2 separate regions of the Homo sapiens genome follow, and region 1 is reported to be linked to region 2. The links are microRNA targets in miRTarBase. Many come from high-throughput screens and were not tested one by one. Region 2 holds a microRNA gene; the other region holds the end of a gene's coding sequence.
Evidence for each region. The annotated mature microRNA hsa-miR-449b-3p reads CAGCCACAACUACCCUGCCACU and lies in region 2 at 1,188-1,209, opposite strand. An mRNA with a match to its seed (bases 2 to 7 or 8) in the 3' UTR can be bound and repressed. Matches are read on the target gene's strand: a 7mer-m8 pairs with bases 2 to 8, a 7mer-A1 pairs with bases 2 to 7 and ends in A, and an 8mer does both.

Region 1: the mRNA of TCF24 is a reported target of hsa-miR-449b-3p. Seed matches in the 3' UTR shown: 7mer-A1 at 2,448-2,454.

What each region holds. Positions count from the first base shown.
Region 1 is chr8:66,945,567-66,948,566 of GRCh38, forward strand. TCF24 (transcription factor 24) reads right to left here. Exons shown (of 4, transcript NM_001193502.2): 4 at 935-2,598. The coding sequence ends at 2,485. Among named protein-coding and RNA genes, the nearest start is that of TCF24, 16 kb to the right of the region's middle.
Region 2 is chr5:55,169,480-55,172,479 of GRCh38, forward strand. MIR449B (microRNA 449b) reads right to left here and starts at 1,263; the gene lies at 1,167-1,263. All of the region lies in intron 2 of CDC20B (cell division cycle 20B), which reads right to left. It overlaps MIR449A (microRNA 449a), which reads right to left and starts at 1,143; the gene lies at 1,053-1,143. It overlaps MIR449C (microRNA 449c), which reads right to left and starts at 2,874; the gene lies at 2,783-2,874.

The DNA of each region.
Region 1 (3,000 bases), not on the chromosome of region 2:
AGCATTTAGATTAAGCCATCTCTCAAAATATCTAATATATAAATTGAGATCAGAAGCAGTCTGATTTGTGGTTTCTTCTCCCTGCCAGCTAATAAGAACAATACAATTATACATGGAGCCAACAAGCCACTTGTCTTATCATGTCATGATAACAAATATAAATCACGTGTTCATTTCTAAGTGAATCATGTTGGCCACTGTAAAGAGATGTTTTGTATTAGATTATTTCCTCAGTGGTGGCTCATGCCTGTAATCCCAGCTGTTTGGGAGGCTGAGGTGGGTGGATCACTTGAGGCCAGGAGTTTGAGAACAGCCTGGGCAACATGACAAAACCCCATCTCTACCCAAAATACAAAAATTAGCTGGGCATGGTGGCGCGCCTCTGTAATCCCAGCTACTTGGGAGGCTGAGGCAGGAGAATCGCTTGAACCTGGGAGGTGGAGATTGAAGTGAGCTGAGATCTCGCCACTGCACTCCAGCCTGGGCAGCAGAGTGAGACTCCATCTCGAAAAACAACAGAGGCTGGGTGCCGTGGCTCGTGCCTGTAATCCCAGCACTTTGGGAGGCCGAGGCAGGCGGATCAGTTGAGGTCAGGAGTTTGAGACCAGCCTGGCCAACATGGTGAAACCCTGTCTCCTACTAAAAATACAAAAGTTAGGTAGGCATGGTGGTACATGCCTGTAGTCCCACTTACTCAGGAGGCTGAGACACGAGAATCGCTTGAACCCAAGAGGTGGAGGTTGCAGTGAGTGGAGATTGTGCCACTGTACTCTAGCCTGCGAAACAGAGTGAGACTCTGTCTCAAAAAAAAAAAAAAAAAAGCGCGGTAAAAAAGAAGCTAACACCAAGTAGGTATCTATCGTCTAAAAAGATTTTCAAAAGTAGCTTCGGTGTTTGTTAAATATCCAAAGAGAGAAACGCAAATTTAACAGACTAATTTTCAAATTAGTACTTTATTTTTATAATACCTCTTATCATGACCATTCACCATTAAAGCATTAAAAGAGCATGCTCTTTTGAATCTGAGTGAAAATATGCAATTTCTCCTCTGTAAACATACCAAAACCTATCATCATATCTAGCAATTTAATAAAATGTTATGAAAATCTGTAACAAATACACTTCTTTGGCATTAATACAACTTGTAACTGGATGAGAAGAATTAAAAAGTAATACCATCAAAGGCAAAGCTCTACTAACTATTTAACAGGATGACTTAGAAATCTAATTATTCAACACATAGTTTTTTCCCCAGTTAAATGCTTTAAAAACTAGCCAAACTAATAAATCTTAAGAATTATTAGCAAGAAAATCATTTTTCTGAAATTCTTGCTGTTAAATTTAGTGTTTACAATTCAGTTTGAGGTAACTTTGAAGAAGTTTTGATTTCATTCCTTAGGATAAAGATTCTTTTTAGCACTTCTTATGTCAATAACTTATAATAGTGAATGGCTGAATCCAAATCTCATTTTACTTTTTATTTCTTTCCATGAGTAGGTAAATATGTTTACAAATATTTAAATATGCAAGTACTTTTCTACATATTAATATGTAGAGAACTATTATATATCTTTCTTGCAAAAAGATATGCTTCTGTCACATTATGAGTATATTCACATTAAAACAATAAAACTGGGCCAGGCACGGTGGCTCTAGCCTATAATCCCAACACTTTGGTAGGTGAGGCAGGAGGATTTATTGAGCCAGGATTTCAAGAGTAGCCTAGGCAACACAGTGAGACTCCATCTCTACAAAAAATAAAAGAATTAGCCAGGTGTGGTGACATGCACCTACATTGTGAACTCTGCTGTCCGCTGACACCTGGTCTCCTGTTCACACTGGACTGCAGGGATTCCCAGTGCCTTCCACAAGTTGCAAACACTGTAAGATACAGAATAACCCTCTAGGAAGGTGACCAAGCCCTGTCCTCTGAGCAAACCATTTCTAATACTCCAAACAAGTTTTCTAAGAGGGAAAAGTAACTACTTATTGAATTTATTGCATCTTCATATTACTGCAACAGTTTTCTTCAATTGAAATGGTGTCTTAGATCAACTTAAGAACAGTATGGTTTTCACAAAAAAGGAATACTCGTATATTATAAACACAGATTTTTATCTTTTTAAACTAGGAAGACTGCACCAATAGATATGAACTTTTCTGTTTGTAATAGATACACTATAGCAATATCTATATTGCATTCTTTAGCTATATACACAATTGTTTGCTTTCATGTGACTTTTTTCTAATAATTTCTCTTGCACTATATAGTAGTGACTCTCACACTGAACAGATAAGCTGTGTGTTTTATATAACACTGATTATTTCATTCCACATTTAGACAGATAAACCTGAACATCCAACTATGGGTTCACATGTAAACTTTCAGAAATTTTGTTATGTCTCATATAATAAATATAGAATTATGTCATAGTATTTAAAAACAATAGCCACCACTTCTACCAGCCCCCACCAGGGGAGAGCCTAAGGCTGTGAGTCTGTTGGAGTGTTGTCATGATTTGTTTTTTCTCCAGAAACAGAATGCTTCAGAAACTGACCAGTAGCACCGATGTACAATCTTGATCGCATGGGCCATTTCTGAAAAAGATTATTTCAACAAGAATTCAAAAGTTAGTATCTATGACATATATTAACATGGTCTACAATGTTAAAGATTGTAAATAGCCCAATGCAAATGCAATATTATGTAGCTAATAACAATTATAAGTATGAAGTATAAGAAACAACAAGAAAAAATGTTTATTAATGCTAACAGTAAAAAACAAAAATATACTCAGACTTTGATTAACATTTTAGAAGTAATATGTGTGCTTATGGACAAGAACTGCAAGAAATCATGAAAAATAAATATAGTTAAAGTGTAGAAAAATATATCTGCCCGTAATGTTTTAATTTTAAACTAAACCTAAAACAAAATTAAGACTAAAACTAGATCCTGGGCTTTAAAAATATTTTTAAAAGTTCCAATTTTAGTATATG
Region 2 (3,000 bases):
ACTTCGTGGGTCAAAATGCCTCCAAGGTAATGAGAATATATTTAAGGTCATATTGTATGGTCAGTTCTTCCCACTTCACAAGTTGTTAGATCTCATGCTGTCTTCCAAATATTTCATGAACCTGTGATTTTACAGAAAATGAAGTGAAAGGATTGAGGTAGATCTTCCAAAAAAATGTAAACCATCCCCCACCCAAAAAAAATCCCCAATATTCTTGATATTTCAAGTGAAAAATGTTTTAGTTGACTGACTCATCTGGAAAATTACCTCAACTTTCCCTTCAGTTGGTACACACACAGTCATGGCTATAGAAACCAATTCTAATGCTGTATTTAGAAACTAATGATGCAGAGGCCGGGCGCAGTGGCTCACGCCTGTAATCCCAGCACTTTGGGAGGCCGAGGCGGGTGGATCACGAGGTCAGGAGATCGAGACCATCCCAGCTAACACGGTGAAACCCCGTCTCTACTAAAAATACAAAAAAATTAGCCGGGCATGGTAGCAGGCGCCTGTAGTCCCAGCTACTCCAGAGGCTGAGGCAGGAGAATGGCGTGAACCCGGGAGGCGGAGCTTGCAGTGAGCCGAGATCGCGCCACTGTACTCCAGCCTGGGCGACAAAGCGAGACTCCGTCTCAAAAAAAAAAAAGAAAGAAACTAATAATGCAGAAAGAATCCTAAAGACTTCACTGAAAATCTGGGGACACATTGTAGGTCCATTCCACATTGTTATTACATTCTAAACCTTATAGTTAAAAACATGTAATTTCATAAATACTTAAACACTGTCTACTCCGAAAGACTCCAAAGACTCCAAAAATATTTCTTAAAAATTTTTAGTTATGGAAAAGCAGGCATAAGTAAATTTTTCTTAAAAGGAAAAAATTTAAGTAATTGTAATACTTTCCTTACCATTATAAAACTGTGCATTGTAAGTATTACTGTATTATAAGCTAATGGCAATAATATATTATGGTAAATAGTGGCTTGCTTCATAGCAGAAAGTACACATAAACACACACTAATTACAGATTCAGTTACACTCTGATGTTCATTGTATATGCAATAAGACAGCAGTTGCATGTTAGCCGATGCCATTCACATATTCAACCAGCTAACAATACACTGCCAGCTCATCACACACAGGTATCCAGAGCACTTCATTGACAAGAAGAATTTATCCAGAAGCAAGTGGCAGGGTAGTTGTGGCTGCTGACTTGACCCAAGCAGCCAGCTAACAATACACTGCCTACCTGATTCAGGTCACTGCCGATTCTCGTGGCCCAGGCAGTCACTGAGGCTAAATTTGTAACATGAAACATAGTGGCAGAACTCTAATCTTAATAGTCACATTAAAGAAAACTTATACACAAAATGTATTACTTCAAGACTATAAGAAATAAAATCAATATTTGCTTGAATCTAGTCAAAAACATAAAAGTTAAACAAAAACTTTAAAACTTTCAGAATACTTACATTTAGGTTTTCCAAATTAAATGCTTGGATAAAAATATGTTCTACAGTACAAATGAATTTTAAAAGTTACTTAACTGTAGGCTGGGCGCAGTGGCTTATGCCTGTAATGCCAGCACTTTGGGAGGCCAAGGTTGGCTGATCCCCTAAGGTCACAAGTTCAAGACCAGCCTGGCCAACATGGTGAAACCCCGTCTCTATTAAAAATACAAAAATTAGCCCAGCGTGGTGGTGCTGCCTGTAATCCCAGCTACTCAGGAGGCTGAGACATGAGAATCACTTGAACCCGGGAGCTGGAGTTTGCAGTGAGCCGAGATTGCACCACTGCACTCCAACCTGGGCAACAAAGTGAGACTCTGTCTCAAAAAAATAAATAAAAAGTTACTTAACTATAGCTTTTCAAATCACTTCTGTTTACTGATCCAAAGACTACTTGTCTGTATTAGACAGTAAAATATCTAGGAGTCGTGATAATACATAAGCTGTGCACGACACAAAACTGCAGCAGTGTTTGGGGGAAAAAATCAACATTAAAGTATTTAAGAAATGTAAGGGCTTAAATGCAATTAGTTTTCTCCTACTAGAAATGACATTAGTAATCGAGTTCTGAAAATGCAATTATGTATTCAATATAGGATGTTACCACTTGAATACTGAATTTTTTTTTTTAAGAGGCAGGGTCTGGCTCTGTCCTCCAGGCTGGAGTGCAGTTGTGCAATCATAGCTCACTGCAGCCTTGAACGCCTGGGCTCAAGCAATCCTCCTGCCTCAGGCTCCCAAGTAGCTGGGACTACAGGCACATGTCATCATGCCCAGCTAATTTTTGCAGTTTTTTTATAAAGACAAGGTCTCCCTGTGTTGTCCAGGCTGGTCTTGAAGTCTTGGCCTCAAGTGATCCTCCTGCCTCAGCATCCCAAAGTGCCGGGATTACAGGCATGAGCCACAGTGCCTAGTTGCAAAATTTATATAAGATCTAGAAAAATCTATTAAAATGGTGGTGGATTTGGAACTAGAATCTCTGCGTACAGGTCAAAGGAAGATGAACTATTGAGCCTAGAGAGAAGCATGGTAAATGGTGACAGAGATTTAAAGCAGATGAAGGCTCTTTATGAAACACGTTTATAAAACCATTTAAATTTGTTTCCTTTTACACTGATTACAGGAGACACTAAAGACCTTTGGGTTTGGTCTTTCAAGGAGAACAGGTACTACATTGGATCAACTTTAAATTGCTCACGTTAAGAACCATGGTTTATGCCACTTCTCCACATTGTCCACAAGATGGCACCATTTCCATTTCTTTGGGGGGCGTGCTTCTGAATGCAACAGAGAGGAGTGCAACTAGCAACTGTTAAAATCATTAACAGCCGCTAGCAATACACTGCCTACCTGACACATCCCAGCTTTATCCTTTGCTGTGGAGGCAGAAACTAGAAAGTACGATTCAGATGCAAACGATTGCATTATTTGTCTGGGATCTTCAGTTTCATAAAGAAATTTTTTTTAGTATGTAATAAGATACTAAAATTC